4 linked regions of the Homo sapiens genome follow. The protein of the gene in region 3 purifies or fractionates together with the protein of the main gene of each other region. This does not show direct contact. Each region holds a gene or a part of one and is shown on either strand. Other genes may lie near its edges.

What was found. The genes of interacting proteins can lie anywhere in the genome.
Region 1: the proteins of RNF144A (region 3) and PALM purify together in Homo sapiens (affinity purification with mass spectrometry, with the first as the bait; one large-scale study listed by BioGRID). This does not show direct contact.
Region 2: the proteins of RNF144A (region 3) and PLCD3 purify together in Homo sapiens (affinity purification with mass spectrometry, with the first as the bait; one large-scale study listed by BioGRID). This does not show direct contact.
Region 4: the proteins of RNF144A (region 3) and RAP2C purify together in Homo sapiens (affinity purification with mass spectrometry, with the first as the bait; one large-scale study listed by BioGRID). This does not show direct contact.

The regions. Positions count from the first base shown.
Region 1 is NC_000019.10:735,629-740,798, reverse strand, and holds part of PALM (paralemmin-1), read right to left. Parts: intron 4,781-5,170; coding exon 4,721-4,780; intron 448-4,720; coding exon 316-447; intron 1-315. UniProt on the Homo sapiens protein: Involved in plasma membrane dynamics and cell process formation. Isoform 1 and isoform 2 are necessary for axonal and dendritic filopodia induction, for dendritic spine maturation and synapse formation in a palmitoylation-dependent manner.
Region 2 is NC_000017.11:45,125,152-45,130,321, reverse strand, and holds part of PLCD3 (1-phosphatidylinositol 4,5-bisphosphate phosphodiesterase delta-3), read left to right. Parts: intron 1-5,170. UniProt on the Homo sapiens protein: Hydrolyzes the phosphatidylinositol 4,5-bisphosphate (PIP2) to generate 2 second messenger molecules diacylglycerol (DAG) and inositol 1,4,5-trisphosphate (IP3).
Region 3 is NC_000002.12:7,041,049-7,045,441, forward strand, and holds the end of RNF144A (E3 ubiquitin-protein ligase RNF144A), read left to right. Parts: 3' UTR 1-3,131; downstream 3,132-4,393. UniProt on the Homo sapiens protein: E3 ubiquitin-protein ligase which accepts ubiquitin from E2 ubiquitin-conjugating enzymes UBE2L3 and UBE2L6 in the form of a thioester and then directly transfers the ubiquitin to targeted substrates.
Region 4 is NC_000023.11:132,212,084-132,217,253, reverse strand, and holds part of RAP2C (ras-related protein Rap-2c isoform 1 precursor), read left to right. Parts: coding exon 1-258; intron 259-2,678; exon of another isoform or gene 2,679-2,719; intron 2,720-2,807; coding exon 2,808-3,086; 3' UTR 3,087-3,120; intron 3,121-3,298; exon of another isoform or gene 3,299-3,351; intron 3,352-5,170. UniProt on the Homo sapiens protein: Small GTP-binding protein which cycles between a GDP-bound inactive and a GTP-bound active form. May play a role in cytoskeletal rearrangements and regulate cell spreading through activation of the effector TNIK.

The sequences.
Region 1 (5,170 bases), on a different chromosome or scaffold from region 3:
GCCACCCGGCAAGGACAGAAGCTGAATCTACCTCCGGATTTCCCTCCAGAGCCCAGCTGGGTACCTGGTGCCCGGCTCAGCTTTCAGGCAGCTTTCTGGAGTGGATGAATGATTGGGCAGTGAGCCCAGGGCTGAACGACCTCTGAGCCCAGCTGTGGGCCACAGGGGGTGAGGCCCTGGCCTGAACAGCGTCATCTGCTTCACATCGAATCGGGGTCCTGATTCCGGGGCAGACGCCAGACCCACACGCTGGGAGCACACGTGTTCGGGGCTCTGGCCCAGGTGGAGGGAGGGCAGGGGCCGGGGTGCTCGTACCTTTGGTCTCGTCCTCGTAGACTTTGATGCCCAGAGGGAGCGGCTGCCGAGGGAGCAGCGTGGTGCTGGACAGCACCCTGGTCTCCCCTGTCACCTTGTCCTTCTCCACAGTGATCTCAACCGAGTACATGGCTGGCACGAGAGTCACGGGGTTACACCACGGCCTGCCCGCCCCCGCACCCCCCCGCCGGGCTGCGGCCAAGCCAGGGAGGGGGGAGCCAGCAGCGCAGAGCCAAGCAGCGATGGGGCAGGCGGAGCCGGGGATGCCTGGGCACCTTCTCGACGCGGCCCTCCCCAACTCTACATCCCTCCATAGCTCCCCAGTGCCTGGAGACGACCAGTCTGAACACCTCTCCTTGGCATTTGAGGCCCATCCTGCTGTCCGCCCAGATGGTCCTCGTCCCTGTACTCTGCACTGTGTCCTCTGTTTCGCCACCAAACTATTGTCTGTCAAGCTCAGGTTCCAGCCCAGCCCATCTGGAAAGCCTTCATTGTTCCCGGATCTTTTTAATTTTTTTGAGATGGAGCCGCCTTGCTCTGTCGCCCCGGCTGGAGCACAGTGGTGTGATCTGGACTCACCTCCCGGTTCTAGCGATTCTCCTGCCTCAGCCTTCCACGTAGCTGGGACTACAGGCGCCCGCCACCACGCCCAGCTAATTTTTGTATTTTTAGTAGAGACGGGGTTTCTCTATGTTGGTCAGGCTGGTCTCAAACTCCTGACCTCAGGTGATCCACCTGCCTTGGCCTCCCAAAGTGCTGGGATTACAGGCGTGAGCCACCGCGCCCAGCCTATTATTTAAATAGATACAGGGTCTCCCTCTGTTGGCCAGGCTGGAGTGGAGCGGCACGATCACAGCTCACTGCAGTCATGACCTTCCTGGCTCACCCCATTCTCCCACCTCAGCCTCCCAAGTAGCTGGGACCACAGGTGTGCGCCACCACACCCGGCTAATTTATTTATCTTTTTTGGAAATGGGGGTCTCACTATGTTGCCCAGGCTGGTCTCAAACTCCTGGGCTCAAGCAATCCTCCCACCTCAGCCTCCCAAAGCCCTGGGATTATAAACGTGAGCCCTCGAGCCCCACCATTCCTGGTTTCTCAGAGGAGCAGGTGAATCCCAGAGAGATCCTGCCTTGCCCGGGGTCACGGCGGAGACTGGGGCTCAGTCTGCAGACCCACAGCCCCCGCCCCGACCATCCAAGCTCCCAGGACTTGACGCCTCCTTCCAGCCAACGGTTGGACACGCCGTCATCTATTTAGACTCAGAATGAAGGAACCCTCCTGAGATAGTCGAACTTGCTACTCATCAGGGCCCTAACTCCACAGCCAGCACCTCGCCCCACTCTGTAAAAATCATTCCTGCAGAAACCACACAGAGCCTGCATCCTAACAGCGACTGGTGGCTGCCCGCCACCCCCAGGCCTGCTTGAAGATGACGAGCACTGGGGATCACCAGGCACCTCCCTGAGACCCCGCCCCGCAGCGGGAGCTGAACAGGGCTGCCAGGACTGGCCTGACCCATGACACTGCACCCCAGGTGCGGCCCAGCCTCAGGGCCTTTGCACAGGCTGTTCCCAATGCCTGGCACACCCCCCAGATAGCTGCATGTCCTCACCACTTCTGAGGGGCCATCGGTCCCCATCGTGGGCAGCCCTGCCATCGCCTGGCCCCTCGGCCCCCATAGCCACCTCGTTTCCCTCCTCCCACCCAACCTCGACGCTTAGGCCCGGCTGCGGCCCTGGACTCTGCTCTGCGCCGGGGACCTCGCCCAGGCACTCGGCTCTAATCTCCCGCACACCCATCCCCACCTGGACCTTGACCTGGACTCAGCCCCTATCCACAGGGGCCCCACTCTCACACGTCCATAACACTACTCCCAATCTGCCCCCTACACCTGCCCCCACCCTGGCTCTTCCCACCCGTTGGGGGCAGCTCAGTCCTCCCTCTTTTTTTTTTTGAGACAAAGTTTTGCTCTTGTTGCCCAGGCTGGAGTGCAGTGGCGTGATCTCAGATCACTGCAATCTCTGCCTCCCAGGTTCAACCGATTCTCCTGCCTAAGGCTCCCGAGCAGCTGGGATTACAGGCACCTGCCACCATGCCCAGCTAATTTTTTGTATTTTTACTAGAGACAGGGTTTCACCGTGTTAGCCAAGATGGTCTCGATCTCCTGACCTCATGATCTGCCCCCCTCGGCCTCCCAAAGTGCTGGGATTACAGGGGTGAGCCACCACGCCTGGCTAATTTTTCTATTTTTTAGTAGAGACGGGGTTTCACCATGTTGCTCAGGCTGGTCTTGAACTCCTGACCTCAAATGATCTGCCCGCCTTGGCCTCCAAAGGTGCTGGGATTACAGGCGTGAGCCACCGTGCCTGGCCAGTCCTCCCTGACACCTCGTTTCTCCTCAAACCCTGGGGGCTCCACCTTCAGAACATAAGGAACCGCCCACTGCTCGCCCCTCCACGGCCCATCCCAGCCTCCTCCCCCAGCAGCCCTGTCCCCTCCACCTGGCACCGTCCACGGTCTGTTCTCCCTGCAGTCACCAGAGGGCGTGGGTGAGCACGGAGTCGGGGCAGTCCCGGCTTTGCCTGCAGCCCCCCATGGTTCCTGCCTCCCTCCCGGGAAAAGCCCACGTCCCCTCCCGCCCCTGCCACAGGGCCCTCAACAATCTCTCCATCATCTCTCCTCCGCCCTCTCCCCCTCCTCACGCTGCTCCAGCCACACGGATCTCCTGGCCGTTCCTCCAACACCCCAGGCGCAGTCCTGCCCCGGGGCCTTTGCACTGGCCGTGCCCTCTGCCTGGAACACCTTTCCCCAGATAGCTGCGTGCCTTGGACACCTTCCTCCAGATAGCTGCGTGCCTTGCTCCCTCAGCACCTCTGGGTCTTTGCTCAGACGTCACCTCTTACGTTGAACGCTCCCCTCCCCTGAGCCCTCTGGTTCAAATTCTCCTTCCTCCAGCTCAACGTCCTTGGCCTCACTTTTCTACCGTAGTAGAGGTTGTGGCCCTCATTAGAATACCCTCTCCCCCAATGCCTGGCATGCAGCAGGCGCTTGAAAGGCATTCTGGGTGAAGGGACGACTGTTTTTCAACTCTATAGCTCTGCACAGCCTCAGCCCTCCACCCCAGACAGCTAGTCCAGAGCTGCCCACACTGTTGAGCAGGTTGTGCACTGCACAAAGTCAGTGGCCACGGGGATCAGCGGGGGACCTGGGCCTCGGTGTCTGCCAGGGCTGGTCTCACTGGCACAGAGGCCCACAGGCACCACCTGCTCTGACAAATGCCTCTGTCTGCTGCATCCTGGGGCAACCCCCACCCTGGACCGTGCTGGAGACCTGGGCCTCCGGGTGGCTCTCCTTCCTTCCAGCCCTGTCCCGTCCTGGGCAGCCACCCCAGAGTCCTTCTTCACCTCCCTGCCTTGCTGCCTTTTCTGAGACGGAGTCTTGCTCTTGTCGCCCAGGCTGGAGTGCAGTGGCACGACCTTGGCTCACTACAAACTCCGCCTCCCAGGTTCAAGCGATTCTCCTGCCTCAGCGTCCCGAGTAGCTGGGATTACAGGCGTGCACCACCATGCCCGGCTAATTTTTGTATTTTAGTAGAGATGGGGTTTCGCCATGTTGGCCAGGCTGGTTTCGAACTCCTGACCTCAGGCGATCTGCCCGCCTCGGCCTCCCAAAGTGCTGGGGTGGGTTACAGGTGTGAGCCACCACGCCCGGCCCTCTGCCTTCTTTCTGTGCTGTTCCAGCTCACTCACATAGCAGTGGTTTTGCCCACTGCGACGATTTCTCATTATTGGGCTCCTGTCCTGTGCCGGGCCCCAGGATGGCGTACTGAGGTCCCACCCCTCTGGCAGGCGGAGAAATTCAAGGCGGCAGACCAGGGGTTCGAGCCTGACTTGAGCACCGTGTGGCACTCAGCGTCAACCCCCACCTTCCCCTGCTTCTCGGAAGCGCAGCGGTGCTGGGGACCTGGCTTGGTTGCCTCCAGGGACGGGGCACCCACTTTCTCCCGGGGCAGCCAGTCCTACTGCCCGAGGACTGGAGCAGGTAAGATTTGCAGCGAGCATGTTCAGGCGTGAGCGCCACCCCCAGCGGGCCCCAGGAGGGAGCCGTGAGATTAGGGTGGAATGAAAGCCGTGAGGTCGCGTCGGTTAGAGCCGCCATGCGTGGGGCCCGTCTTCTCGGGGAAGCGTGGGCCGGCGTGGGACCAGGGCAACAAAGCAGAGGGGGCCCCCACCCCAGGCTCGGAGCCTCGGCCTCGGTCCAGCTGCCACCCCCATAACCACGGCCCCGTCAGACGCTGCGGAGAGCAGGTCGGTGTCGCCCCCGCCCCACCCGGCCCCCCGGACCGAGACTTGGTCCCTGACAGCGGCTGGATCTGGGGCCCAGAGCCTGGGGGCCAACCCACCTGCCTTCATCATGGGGGAGCCGTCAACCGTCCTCAGGGGCGTGTTGGAGACTCGCTTGTCTGCACGGGAGGTGGAAGCGGAGAGAGAGATGAGGGTCAGAGGAGAGGTCACATGGACCCCCCAGACAGCCCAACGCCCCTTCACAGAAGTGCATCCGGACTCCCACATGCACCTGGGCCTTTGACACCCAGACCCCACCCAGACACAGGAACCTGGGCCCCCAGACACCCAGACAGGCACCTGGGCCCTCAGACACACAGATCCCACCCAGACACCCGGACACAGGCACCTGGGCCCCCAGACACCCAGACAGGCACCTGGGCCCTCAGACACACGGATCCCACCCAGACACCCAGACACAGGAACCTGGGCCCCCAGACACCCAGACAGGCACCTGGGCCCTCAGACACACGGATCCCACCCAGACACCCGGACACAGGCACCTGGGC
Region 2 (5,170 bases), on a different chromosome or scaffold from region 3:
ACATGCAGACAAATAATTACAGCTGAGCCCGGGCCTCGGTACTCATCAGCTGAGTAAGGCTGCACGGGAGCTCTGGGCACCTCATCAAGGTGACACTCTCGGGAACTACATAGATATCAGAATGTCATCTAGGTCACCCTCATTCCTCACCACTGCCCTGTCCTGCTGAGTGACTGCAGAGAGAGGAATGTTGAGTCCGAGTCTGTTGGGAATGTCCCTTCCCCAGGCCATAGGGAGTCCAGGGACAGGGTGGAGAAGGAAACCCAGTCTTGGGGCCCAGCCCCTTGGGCCATCAGAGGCCAAGGCCTAGGCCTGTCACCCAGGTAGCCTCCCCCGCCTCGCTCTGCCCCTGCCATCACCACACCCCTTAGCCTAACAGAGAATAGATTTTATATCAAATCAGGTCAAGGGACTAGGGCAGGGAGTGGCTTAGAGGGGCCTGAGGAAGGAAAATCCTTTAGGGCCACACTAGGGAGACCCAGATGAGCGGGGAAGGAGGAAGAAAACACCCCCACAGTGAGTGGGAGTCCTTTGTCCCCCCTCCAGTCCCCCGCTCCTGGGCTGGGCTGCGGACTTGCAGGGAATCATTGAAGAGAGAGGAGCGCTAGAGCCCAGTGAGCACCCGCCATGCGTGAGGCACTGTGCTGAGCTTGCATCAGACCTGATCCTGCTTAATCCTCAGGCATCCCTGTGCGGGAGGTGCTGTCCTCATGTCACATTACAGACGGGAAGCTCAAGGCGGAGGGGTGAAATCACCGCCCAAGGCCACATGCCTGCCTGCTGCCAGAGCCTAGTTTTCCATGATGGCTCCCAGTGAATACTTTTTGTTGTTGCTGTTGTTGTTAGTTGTTTATGAGACAGGGTCTCATTCTGTCACCCAGGCTGGAGTGCAGTGGCATGATCATGGCTCACTGCAACCTCAAATTCCTGACCTCAAGTGATCCTCCCACCTCAGTCTCCCAAGTAGCTGGGACTCAGGAGACTGGGAGACTGGGTACCACCACATCCAGCTAATTTTGTTTCTGTTTTTTGTAGAGTTGGGGTCTCACTGTGTTGTCCAGGCTGGTCTTGAACTCCTGGGCTAAAAGAATCCTCCTGCCTTGGATTCCCAAAGTGCTGGGATTACAGGTGTAAGCCACCATTCTTGGCTAGCCTGATGAATACTAATGAACAATTTTGTCACTGTCCCAGGCGCTTTTCGCATATTATCTCATGTAATGCTCACACTAATATGAGGTAGGTGGTACCAGTAGCCTTCTCTTACAGATGAGGAAACTAAGACTCAGAGAGATTTGGTAACTTGCCTAGGGTTCAAAGCTGGGAAGTAGCTGAGAGAAAATTTGAACCCAGGCAGTGTGGCCCAGAGTCCGTGCTTGTCACACAGTGACTGATAGAGAAGCTGATACCTGCAGGGGGCCTCCTGGCCGCTCCTCTCCCATGGGGGCCCTGCCAGCCCCCAGGAGCGTCCTCACAGGGCTGCCAAATAAAATACAGAACACCCGGTTAAGTTTGGAATTCCGCTAAATGCGGAATATGGAATGTATTTATACTAAAAAATTATTCTTTATCTGAATTTCACATTTAACGGGTGTCCTGGATTTTCTCTGGCCACCCTGTGTCCCCACAGCCCCGTGTGTGCCTGTGCCCTGATGCTCCGCCCCTGCCCCTCATCCTCCCCATGGGCAGAGGCCTGAGTGGGCAGAATCCTGCCCCCTTGCCTCCCCAGCCTACACACACTACCAAGTGCCCCTGAGCGAGAGGGCTCGGCCCATGGCCTGCCTGGGATGTCTTCCGCAGGGTGAGTGGGACTGCTGTGGGTGACTTGGCAGGTGAGGGTCTTCAGAACAACCCCCAGCCCTGGCAGGTGCCTGGCCTGGGTGGTGGGTAAGCTGGGTGGCCCTCCAGTCTAAGCAGGGGCATGCCAGGTGGGACTAGGGGGCTGGCTCTGCCAGGCCCTGTGGTCCCCCTCACATCTTTCCCTGTCCCCTACCCTGACTTCCGCACCCAACCAGGTTTCATGCCTGTTCTGGCCCCAGAGAAAAGGGTGCTGCCACCCCCACTTGCTGTGTCCCACCCGGGGCCAAGGGAAGCACCGCCTGCCTTTCCTGACTTTGTTGATTCTCCAAGGAATGTTATGGACTCTGGCACCGAGCCCCCGCCAGGCTCCAGCCCTGGGTGTGGCAGCCAGCTGGGTCACGGGGGACATGCTTGGTGCCTGAGGTGTGGAGGCTGCCTGCTGGCTAAAGGATTAGGGTGGGAGGGTCTTTGGGACCCCTCGCCATTGTGTGTCCTCTCCTAGAGCCTCACAGCCCCGGCCACCTGGAAACGCTCTTTCTCTACTCCCTGCTCGGCCTTGGCCACAGCTGCTGGCTGTAGCAGTTCCCTGCATGACTCGCATTCCTGTGGAGCCCTGTGTGCACCTCCCGAGTGCGAGCCGCCTATTTCCCCCTGGCTGGCCCACCTTCCACCCTCTCCACCCATGAACCCTGTACGCACACACACACTCACACGCACACACTCACACACATTCACTCACACTCATACACACACACTGTCTCACGCACACACACACTCCCCACCTATGCATACACCCCACACACACCCTGCCCTGCCTGCATGCCACCCCTCCGGGACACGCCTGGACAGAACTCCCACCCTCCCTGCCAGCTGCCCTGGCGCCTGTCTCCACTGCACAGCCTCTATATCCATCCCTGCCTGGGGGCGACCTGCACTATCTTCAGCACACAGGGCTTGTCCTCTCTGAGCTCAGTGGTGCACCTGTGAAAAGGGTGGGATTTGGGGCCCCTTCCAGCTCTGACATGAGGTAGTTTCTGGTCCCTGGTCTTGGCTACCCTTACAGAACTGCTCAGGCCCCAGACCATCCACGCCCCAAACCGCCCGGGCTGCAGGTGGAAGTTGAGAAACTGGGCCTGCCCTTTCCTCAGCACGCCTGACCCCTCTCTGAGGCTGAGATAAGCGGGCAGCTTGGGAAGGTGTCTGAGCCCCAGCTGACAACACTGAATTGGGCGGGAGGTGCCGCTGTCCTGGTCTGGGGAAGGTACCCCCTGGAGGCCATGGGACTAAGGGGACAGATGGATCAGAACACGTGGGTGCCTCTTTCCACCCGGGGCACTAACTCACTTCCCCAGAGCCCTGCCTCAGTTTCCTTCTTTGTGATCATTTACTGAGCACCCACTATGGGCCAGGCCTAAACCAGGCTCCATGTGCTTGTGCCTGTTGTGGCCACACACAGCCCTTTGGGGTCAGACTCCCCCAACTTCCACCACATTTCAGCCCCACCGGGTGCCGACCTGGCTGTCTGCTTCTTTAACAGCATTTTTGAGATATTCATTCACATACCTTATAATTTATCCATTGAAAGTACACAGTGCGGAGCACTTTGGGAGGCAGAGGCTGTTGAATCACTTGAGGCCAGGAGTTTGAGACCAGCCTGGGCATCATAGTGTGACCCCAACTCTACAAAAAAATTTAAAAATTATTCAGGCCTGGTAGTGCAAGTCTGTAGTCCCAGCTCCTCGGGAGGCTGAGGTAGGTGGATTGTTTGAGCCCAAGAGTTTGAGGCTGCTGCAGTGAGCCATTATTGTGCCACTGCACCCCAGCCTGGCTACAGAGCAAGACCCTGTCTCAGAAAAAAAAAAAAAGTATACAATGGTTTCCAGCATATTATATCATTAAACTTTAAAAATTATGGTAAAATAGGCCGGGTGCTGTGGCTCACGCCTGTAATCCTAGCACTTTGGGAGGCCGAGGCGAGTGGATCACTTGAAGTCAGGAGTTCGAGACCAGCCTGGCCAACATGGTGAAACCCCATCTCTACTAAAAATACAACAATTAGCCGGAAATCACTTGAACCCGGGAGGTGGGGGTTGCAGTGAGCTGAGATCGTGCCACTGCACTCCAGCCTGGGCAACAGAACGAGATGCTGTCTCAAAAAAAAAAAAAAAAAAAAAAAATAGGCTGGGCGCAGTGGCTCATGCCTGTAATCCCAGCACTTTGGGAGGCTGAGGTGGGCGGATCATGAGGTCAGGATATCAAGACCATCCTGGCTAACACGGTGAAACCCCGTCTCTACTAAAAAATACAAAAAAAATTAGCCAGGTGTGGTGGCGGGCACCTGCAGTCCTAGCTACTCAGGAGGCTGAGGCAGGAGAATGGCGTGAACCCAGGAGGCGGAGCTTGCAGTGAGCCAAGTTCGTGCTACTGCACTCCAGCCTGGGCAACAGAGCGAGACTCCATCTCAAAAAAAAAAAAAAAATATGGTAAAATATATATAATGAAATTGGCCATTGCAACCATTTTTAAGTGGTTAATTCACTGGCATTAATTACATTCACGCTGTTGTGCAACTATTACTGTTGCCTATTTCCAAAACTTTTTCATCATCCAAACAGAAACTAACCATCAAGCAATAACTCTCCATTACCTCCCCATTCCAGCCCCTGGTACCCTCCCAGCTACTTTCTGTCTCTATGAACTTGCCGCTCTGGGTACCTCACATGGGTGGAATCACATAGTATTTGTCGTTTGGGGTCTGGCTTCTTTCACTTAGCATGATGTTTTCAAGGTTCATCCATGTTGTAGCGTGCATCAGATTTCACTCCTTTACATGGCTGAATACTATTCCATTGTATCGATAAACCATATTTTGCTTATGCACTCATCTGTCTCATATGTTTTTTGTTTGTTTTGTTTTGTTTTGTTTTTTGAGACGGAGTCTCGCCATGTCTCCCAGGCTGGAGTATAGTGGCACAATCTCAGCTCGCTGCAACCTCTGCCTTCCGGGTTCAAGCATTCTCCTGCCTTAGCCTCCCTAGTAGCTGAGATTACAGGCGTGGGCCACCATGCTCGGCTGTTTTCTATTTTTAGTAGAGACGGGGTTTCACCATGTTGGTCAGGCTGGTCTCGAACTCCTGACCTCAAATGATCTGCCTGCCTCGGCCTCCCAAAGTGCTGGGATTACAGGTGTGAGCCACCATGCCCAGCTAATGTTTTATGTTTTTAGTAGAGACAGGGTTTCACCATGTTGGTTAGGCTGGTCTCGAACTCCTTGCCTCAAATGATCCACATGCCTCAGCCTCCCAAAGTGCTGGGATTGCAGGTGTGAGCCACCATGCCCGGCTGATGTTTTATATTTTAAACAGAAACAGGG
Region 3 (4,393 bases):
AGAGAATTTACTTCTAAAAGCCACAGGTGCTTTTACAAAGCAAACTGCATTGAATTTAAAACTTCTAAAAATAACAGGCAAATATTGTAGCTATATTACAGTGGGATTTTAAAAATCTTGTTAAACATTCTATAAAGAAGTAAAACAAAATCCTTTTATCTCAGTTATTTGCCCATCACAAGCACATTTTTAAAATGTTGCTTTGTGTGTGTTTGACTTCTGCATTTGAGTATCAGTCTCAGGTCCTAGTTTACTTTCCCTGGTTGGAAATTTATTTCTTATTTCCTAACATTGAATTCGTTAGAAAAAACAGCGTCACCTCACTCTTCACCTGTCATGTTGATTTTCCTTATGAACCCGAAGCCATTTAGAAAATCCCTGTGTGTCAAAATTACATTCAAAAAGCTCTCCTTGTAATTGCAAGTTTAGTAACTCAGTAAGAACATGCCTGCGACTCCCTTTCTGGATGGAACCTGGGCTGTGGCTCTCTGTCGTTTGTGGTGCTGTGATGGTGTCTACTGTTAGAATAGCTTTTCTGGAGGTGGGTGGCAACTCCACGCGGGAGTCATTGGCTGGGCTTGAGCCCTCAGCCTGTGATATGTGGATGCAGCTGTCCAGCCACTGCCCTTTAACATGCCCAGCACACATGGGAGGCCTGTGGCCCTGTGTCCAGTGGCCCACAGGACACGCCTCCACCATATGCTCATCCTTCCTGCCTGAAATTGCTGCTGCCCATCGCATGAGCCCACACAGTAGCACCCCCGTCCTTAGGATGAGAGTCAGAGCCTTTGGAAAGGCTGCATCCCCAGGGCTAGAGCTCAGATGACCTTATTTCTAGAGGGACAGGCTGTTCTGTTGGAAGAGTCTCTGGCCCAGTCATGCACATCTGTAGCCCCAGCCATCCTTGTGCCTTCACCTCTGATGTGTTTCACAAGCACGTAGTTCAACCCAGATAGGGACCACAGAGATTCTGGGGCCAGCCAGGGGCAGTCAAATTGGCACCTACTGGCTCTGACTTTTTGTATGAAGCATGCCTCAGTTTCCTCATTTTGATCTAGATATAAAATTAAAATTGTCCATTTCCTATATAAATACCAGCAAGATCACTCTGAGATACATAAACTCGCATTTCCTTCTGTTTTAGTAAGGAGTGCCAGACTTATCTTTGATGGGAATACAGTATGAACCCTGCTTGATGTAAAATGGAAATAGCACACAGGCAGATGGCCCTGGGTTTGGACTTTGATCTTGCCATCATTCCCCAGTAAAACCTGGGGAGTTCTGCGTTGAGTGGACGGACTTATTCCTGTGAAGCGGCATAATTTGTCTCCATTGAAAAATGGCATTCACTCTTACAGATGGTGTTCACTGCAAGCCCCAGAAGCATATGGCATGTGTTCACTAAGAGGCCTTTAATCCTGGGGAGTAAGGGGCGAAGGCCCTTAGACAACCATGGCTGCTGTACTGCCGCCCAGGGTGGGTGGCCAGTGAGGACTGGCCTTAGCCCAGTGGACCTGTGGCTTCTCTGAGGCCCTTGAGTAACTGACCACATTTGGAGGTTTTGCTGGAAATGCCTGACCTCTCAGTCTGGCTCTGCTGTGTAGTCCATAGCCCAGCCAGATGAGCTTGCAGCCTCATAGGAGGTCAGCACCTTGCAAAGATGCAGTCACCATAGATGTCCACGTAGCAGAGACTGACTTAGGATCTGAGATAAAGCATCGGATTGCAGGAATAACTGTCCAAATTAGTTCTTCCTCCTCAACTCATAGGAGTAGCTGTGGACAGAGGAACCAACATCTGCCACCTCTGGCATTTTCTTTCTTTTTTTTTCTTTTTGAGACGGAGTTTCGCTTTTGTCCCCCAAGCTGGAGTACAATGACAGGATCTCGGCTCACTGCAAGCTCTGCCTCCCGGGTTCAAGCGATTCTCCTGCCTCAGCCTCCCAAGTAGCTGGGATTACAGGCACCCACCACCTCACCCAGCTAATTTTTGTATTTTCAGTAGAGACGGGGTTTCACCATGTTGGCCAGGCTACTCTCAAACTCCTGACCTCAGGTGATCTGCCCACCTCGGCTTCCCAAAGTGCTGGAATTACAGGCCTGAGCCACCCCACCCGGCCTATTTTCTTAAAGGGGAACAAATGATCTTGACAACATATTATTCCATAAAACCAGTTTAGGGCACAGGCCAGTTCCTGATTAGAACACAGGACCTGTGGGAGGGACTATCAGAGATGCAAAAATTACTTCAAGATGAGTTTATTGTTTTCATTTGTATTGCAAAAGTTAGAAGTCATTTTACAAATTAAAAAAACATTTTTTTCTTGGTAGTCTTTAAAAATTAGGGGATTGAAAGGATCCAGGATGGGCTTTGTGTGTGTGTCTCAGATTCTCATTTATTAGTGAGCACACCTGTGTATATATATAAATCACAAGGAGATCATCAAGGGAAAACATTTTGCATGTGTAAAGCTTCATGAAGTTCTCTTTAAAAAATACCAAAGCTTGTTTATTTCTGATAATTAACCTAAGCCCTTATGAAAATAAACAAAATGAAGGGATTATGACAGGTATTACCAAAAACACCAAAAGGAACAAAGGGGCCTGCGTTAAAACCTAATTGCTAATGCTTCACAACTAGGAGAGCATGCCGTCTTGATGTTTAAAAAACCCAGGGTCTCCACCCTTCCTTTGATTTGTGCAATTCTGTCTTCCACAGTTCCGGAGCCTTCAGTGAGGGGTAGCTACATGCCCCATGCCTGCCCTTTCTTTCCTTCTTTGCTCACTTTACTATGGGTGTATTTTAATCTTGTATAAAAATATGCATGAATGAGTCATGCACATGTATACGTTATGTATTTGACAAGTGGTGGTGAAACAAAATCAAAACAGATTTGATTTGTGTTTTTGAAATGTCAGTACATTTTGTGCCACTAACACTGTGATGTATAAAAGAGCTGTTTGAATGCCTTTTAATGTTGTGTTTTGTACTCTGGAATCATATGGAAAAAGTTTGATTTGTAATTTCAATACATATTTTAAATGTATTGTGTCTTACGTAGTTTGTCCCCCCCTTTAGCAGGGATTCCTTTTTAAAGCTATTTTGGCTGGAATACAGGTGACTTTTGTAAACCCCGCGTGGCTCCGTCTTTTGTAGATGCTTATCTGACTACTGGCCTGAAGATGGAAAATATTCTATCTTCAGTCTTCAATATTTAATCTATTGAAGATTGAAAATATTCAATGTGGGAACTGGGGGTGGAGGGAGAAAGGGTGAGGCAGGGGAGGGATCTTATATCACTGGGAAAACAGCTCTTGTATCCTGAGATTTTCTGTTTTAGGAATGTTCTCAACTCCTAGATGCCAAAATTACTTGGTTTGTTGGGTGTATCAACCCGTCCAGCCATTCCTGGCTCCCTCTTGTGGTGCCCAACCGGTACTGCAGCATCAGGAAGCATCTCATCCCCACTCAGGGCGCTCTGCTTCCATCCGCAAAGACAAGTTCCTTACAGACCTGTCACATTTTATGAGTTGCAGCATGAAAATCAGGAGGCATCCTTTATCTGCTGGGGGTGGGGAGAAAGTGGAATAAATATGGATCCTTCTCATTTCGTAGGAGAGATAATAATGAGCTGAAGATGTGGTGGTTCACCTTGATTTTCATTCACCTCACTCCAGCTTGGAGGAGAATCTATACCTCATGCGTTCATATGATGCTCAAGTCTGGAATAGGCAACTGGTTCCTTGTCCTGTGTTTAAGTTTTAAATCCATTCTTTATATCTACAGGTGCACATTAAGGGAGTGGATTTTGTTAACTGGTGATTCATAGTGGGCACTGAAGACTCAATATATCTGCCCTCAAGGAGCTCTTAGTCTCAAGGGGTTGACAGATAAGTCAGTCAATTATCATAAGAAGGTGGAATAAGTTCAATGGTAGACGCACGCTCAGCAGGCTTTGCGGGCACAGCACAGCCCTTCGGCCAGGCCGGAAGGTCAGGGAAGGCTGTCCAGAGGACGCCATGTATGAGCTCGCTCTTGTAGACAAGTAGGAACTAGCCAAGCAAAACTGAGAAGTGTGTTCAAAGGAAGGGCCCAGTTCAACAAGCGCACAGAGTTTGGTCCAACTGGCGTGTCGGGGTTGGAGAGTTACTCAAATGTCTGACCTGGTGGGGGCACAGTGTGCCGAACTCAGGAACTGGACCTTCATGATAAAGGCTGTGTGGGAGGAGTGAGTTAGGGTCCTAGGGCTGCTGTCACAAAGGACCACACACCAGGGGCTACAACAACAGAGCTTTACTGTCTTCCAGGTCTGGAGGTTGGAAACTGAAGGTTCAGGTATCTGCAGGGCTGGAATCTTCTGAGAGCGGTAAGGAGGATGCCCGTGTTGCTCTGC
Region 4 (5,170 bases), on a different chromosome or scaffold from region 3:
GTAGTGGTGTTAGGGAGTGGAGGGGTTGGCAAATCTGCCCTTACTGTGCAGTTTGTCACTGGGACTTTCATTGAGAAATATGACCCCACCATTGAAGATTTCTACCGCAAAGAGATCGAAGTGGACTCTTCCCCCTCCGTGCTGGAAATTCTGGACACCGCAGGAACTGAGCAGTTTGCCTCCATGAGAGATCTCTACATCAAAAACGGCCAAGGTTTCATCCTGGTTTATAGCCTGGTTAATCAACAGTCTTTTCAGGTAACCAAACCAAGTCTTGTAATTTGTTAGAAGGGGGTGTGGTAATCCGACATCGACTTCTGGGTTGCTTGAACCGTGCATTAATGACTGTGCTTTGCTTTTGAAAGTTAGACATGACGCATTTTTGAGGTTACTCCTGCCATGGAAGACTATCGGGTTGTTTCTATAGAGCGTAGTAAAAAGTAACAAGCGTCAACAAATATTTTAAAGCTATTTTTAAGTGAAAGAAAAGTGAAAAAGAAATGTCAGTCTGTGTATATTTCGCCTGGAATATAACCTTCTGAAGTTGCTTGCTCAATTCAACAAGTATTGATTAACTTACACGACAAAACATCTAACAAATAATCTCGGGTAAATAGAGCACTTTGAAAAAATTATTTGGAGCCGATTATCTGTTGCACAGATAAGTCCTCTGTGTCTGTCCCACCCACACCTTCCCCTCCCACCCCCCAACACCCCCTCCCGCCGCCCTCCCCTTCTCTCTCAAGTTTCTCAACTAGATTCATAAATCTTAGTGTTGCAAGACGAAGAACTCAAGACCTGCCTTCTAGGCATTTTACTTAATTACTTGGGGCGTGTAGTAGGAAGAAAAGTTACTAATAGAAAAGACTAGTACCTAGAATTAATAACCAACAAAAATCAGGAATGACTCTTTTTCTGCAGTTGATCCAAATTGTTTCTGGTAACATTGCCTGTATTTACAGAAAATACGTGGGTCTGGGAACACTGAACAAGTGCAGATTTCTTACTCCGGCTGGGTGGCCAAACTGGATGTGGTCCAATCTCTTAGAAAATCTGTCCTGTCCTTCACTGGGAAACAGACTGAAGGTTTAACGTTATTTTAGGATATGCAATGTATGTTTCTATTTATCCCTTGAAAATGAATAACCTCATATTGACCCATTATATTGACCTCCATTGATTTAGGAAATGGATATATTTTTTCTGCATTTAAAGGTATGCACTTAATGTAGCTTACTTAAGAGACCTTAAGTGCTTTAGCCAATACAATGTGCTAATTCCACTTTCTTTAGTATTTTAAATTAAAGTACTATAGTGAACTTTCCCAGTAACCTGATAGAACAACTTCAGGGATTTTTTTTTTTTAAGATGATAAATTCTGGGGAAATAAATCAAAGCTATTGAGACCAAACTAAATTCATTTTATGTAGGCATAAATTCCCAAACAATAGTATCATAAAAGCATTTTCCCCCAGAAAGTACCAAAGTACTGAAGGTGCTGTTTGACAGGCATTTTTTCCCTAAAGGATCCTCAGGAGATTTGTTATTCTATCAGCTTACTCTCTGGAGGCTGAGAGTCTTTTGAAGGGTGTTTCATAAGATTTCTGTTATATCCATTTGTGTTATAGACATGAATTGGGAGTGAAAAACTGTGCCGTTATTTCAGTGGAGGTGTAAACTCTTTTGAGCCCAAATGCCCTAAGTTTGGATTTTCAGCTGAACTTATGTTTCCATAAAGACAATGGGAAATAAGCGTAACCTAGAAATCTGAGTTGATATATTATCAAACCAAATTGATGCAAATATCAAATAACTATATTTTTATAGATTTTCATAGTCCCTTGCTTTTCCGTAGGCCCACATGTGAATATTCTGTACTTACTATGACTTCCAATTAAGCATACATTTTCTATTTAAGGCAAACTTTTAAAATTATGAAATATTACCGAAAATGGTGATTTTTATAATTAAGTCTATAATATTGTATTAAATCAATACTTGCCCCCACCTCCCAAAACTGATGCTACTGGAGAATTGCTAACGCTCTTATCTTTTGTAATTCGTTGTAACTACTTGGAAAAAGTAATACGCATGGGGAAACAAGTAGTAAAAACAAACACAGGCAAAAAAAAAAAAAATGACTTCTTCCCACCCAGACTCCCCTTGCACTGTCCTTCCCAGGAGTTGCTCACTGTTACAGTAGTTTCTAGTGAATTTAAGTGTATTGTAAGGTGTTTGATTTTACTGGAATAAATGCATACCATTCAATTTAAAATAAAACATTTAAGTGTATCCATCTGGTTGTAACTCTTTTATTCTAGGCATTACAAAGTGGTTTTTTTTCCCACTTAAAACACTTTCACTCAAGCCCTCTTGCTACATGGCTAGGAATGCATAGATGCTGCAATCCTGTGCTAGGATAACAGGTGTTACAAGGAGTGATGACAAGCAGGCAGGTTTAGGGAGATGGCCAAACATCCTTATGTACGAATGGATTAATCATTTGGAAACTTGCTTTTTTAATCAGTATAGACTGGGGGTGGGTAAAAGTGATTATATGAGTCAAGGTTAGTGTGCAACCCATGTTTTATATTCTTGACAAACCCAGCAGGTAGGGTCTCTGGAAATTATCTAGTTCTTACTTCAGTGGACAAAATGATGACGATTTCTCTGTTTAGGTGTGATTTCATTTTGGATTCAGCTTTGTATACTCACTGAGGTATGACTTTTTGTAATACTGTAATATTTCTGTTATGGTTATACAAACAGCATAATGTTTTTCTTTCTCTTTGTGATTGCTTGAATAGGATATCAAGCCAATGAGAGATCAAATTGTCAGAGTGAAGAGATATGAAAAAGTCCCACTAATCCTAGTAGGAAATAAAGTGGATCTGGAACCAGAAAGAGAGGTTATGTCTTCAGAAGGCAGAGCTCTGGCTCAAGAATGGGGCTGTCCTTTCATGGAGACATCGGCAAAAAGTAAATCAATGGTGGATGAACTTTTTGCTGAGATCGTCAGGCAAATGAACTATTCATCCCTGCCGGAGAAGCAAGATCAGTGTTGTACAACTTGTGTCGTCCAGTAAAGAAGATAACCTCAATCATGGCCATACCGAGCAGGTTAGTTTTTGATGGAACTGTATGAATCAGGTAGTGTTTTGTTTTTTGATCAAGTAAAACAAAAAGCTGGTTAGTGTTAATACATATGGCACTGCCTTAAATTTCTTTATTTTTAAAATAACATTTTCCATCACACAAAATAGTCAACATTCAATGAAGAAAATTTTTTTAAATGCAGATAAGCAAAGCGGAGATAAGAAATTGCTTATATTCCCATCACCAGGATTTTAAGTGAGTTATTGTTCTTCCTTCTCTGCTTTATTGGTAATATTTCTTTGGGTTGAGTTAAACCATAATACACTTTTTCCCTGTTCTTCTGATTTAGCATCCAGAATGCACAGGAGAGCACTGAGTAATAATTTCAGAAGTTTTGTGGTATTTTCTGTACTTTTATGTTTTTATGTCCTGAGCAAGCAAATTGCTGCAATTAAAATCACCAATTTACTAATCACCAAGTGCTTGATTAACAGTACAATTATTTAAGCAAATTCATCTGTACCTAACACTTGAGGGACTTAAGTGACCTCTGATAATAACAAATTATAGTGCCACAGTGTACCCTGACTTCATTATAAATATACGGTCCAAAAGATAATCTAGTTGAATTATCTGTGATGTGTTAGAAGGAACAGTTTCATGCATAAAAAAATTTATTCAATTTAATAAATTATGAGATTAATAGGAACAGTAACAAACCTTCAGGCCTTTCACTGAGTTAAATGATAACTTACAAGTTTTTTTTAATGAATGAGTTTTTTTTTAAAACTCATACTTTTTTAAAAGTAAGATTATGTAAAACTTACGAAGCATTTAAAACAAGATTATTTATGCCATGATCTTTTAGTCTAGATTGTAATTGAGCAAATAGTCTCACTTAGACAGTAACACTTAGATAATAAGATAAAACAACCAATATTGTGAATGACTGAGAAACCGCAGCAAATGCCAGACTAGCCTGACAGTATCAGGAATGAAATTGATCTTCCTGAGCCAAGGCTGACCTCGAGTCTAGGAGGCAGTGTTGCAAATGGCAACAGGCATTTCAGATTGGAGCAATGATTCCTAATCAAGGGTCTGGCTTTGTGTATGCTCCCCGGAGAAAAGACTAACGGTCCCTAATTTATCTTTTCAGACAAGGTCTCCTGTCAGATAGTGTCATCTTTGAAAATGAAGGATGACAACAATGCTTTATTTAAAATGCTTTCACTCATCAGCCTTTAGCATACCAGAATATGATGAAAACTCATTTATTTTCTTATGTCTAGCTACATCTATTATTTTATAAAGTCACTTTTCAGACCATAGTCCAGCTTGTGTTTGGTTGATAGCATTGTACTTGCAGTATAGTCTTTTGAGGAGGGGAGAGGCTTATGGATCAAGTCCCATATTCTTGCTGCTGTAATCTCTCTCCTTAAATTGTAAGCCAGCTTCACAATTGAACAAGTTCTGTGTGGTGATTGTGTCTTTACTGTTTTGCTCTATTTTTCTACCTGACACTTACTGGGCAGATAACGTAAGTGTCTATACACATTTTGTGTTAGTTTTATCATCTTTTTAAAAATTAACCAACTCCCACGAAATGTTCCCAGTTTTCCTTCCATCATTAGTGTAGACAGCTATAGGAGGTTAACTGAATAAAATTGGTCTCATACATGTAGAGAGCCAGCTCTCTCAGCCAAATTGGCAGGTGAATAATTTCTAAAGCTATTTTTGAACCTCTTCTTCTGAATCATTTCTGAGTTTATTTCATTTGGTAACTTTTTGTGATCTGAATTATTTTTAACCTATTTAGTTACCTACAGGAATGAGTACATAGATTTTTTTTAGTATCTCAAGCCAACTATATTTGTATTTTTTGTTAATTAACATACTAAAAATGGAAATTATTAATACCTATATTCATTTTTATAGTAGTGGGTCAAGTTCTCTGTGTAGGTTTTTGTTTGTTTTTGTAAGCAGAATATATAAATGAAGATATTAGCCTTGAAATAAAATATCCAATAAACTGAATTTCTAAAAATATTAAGGGGAACTCCCTGACCAAGATCTT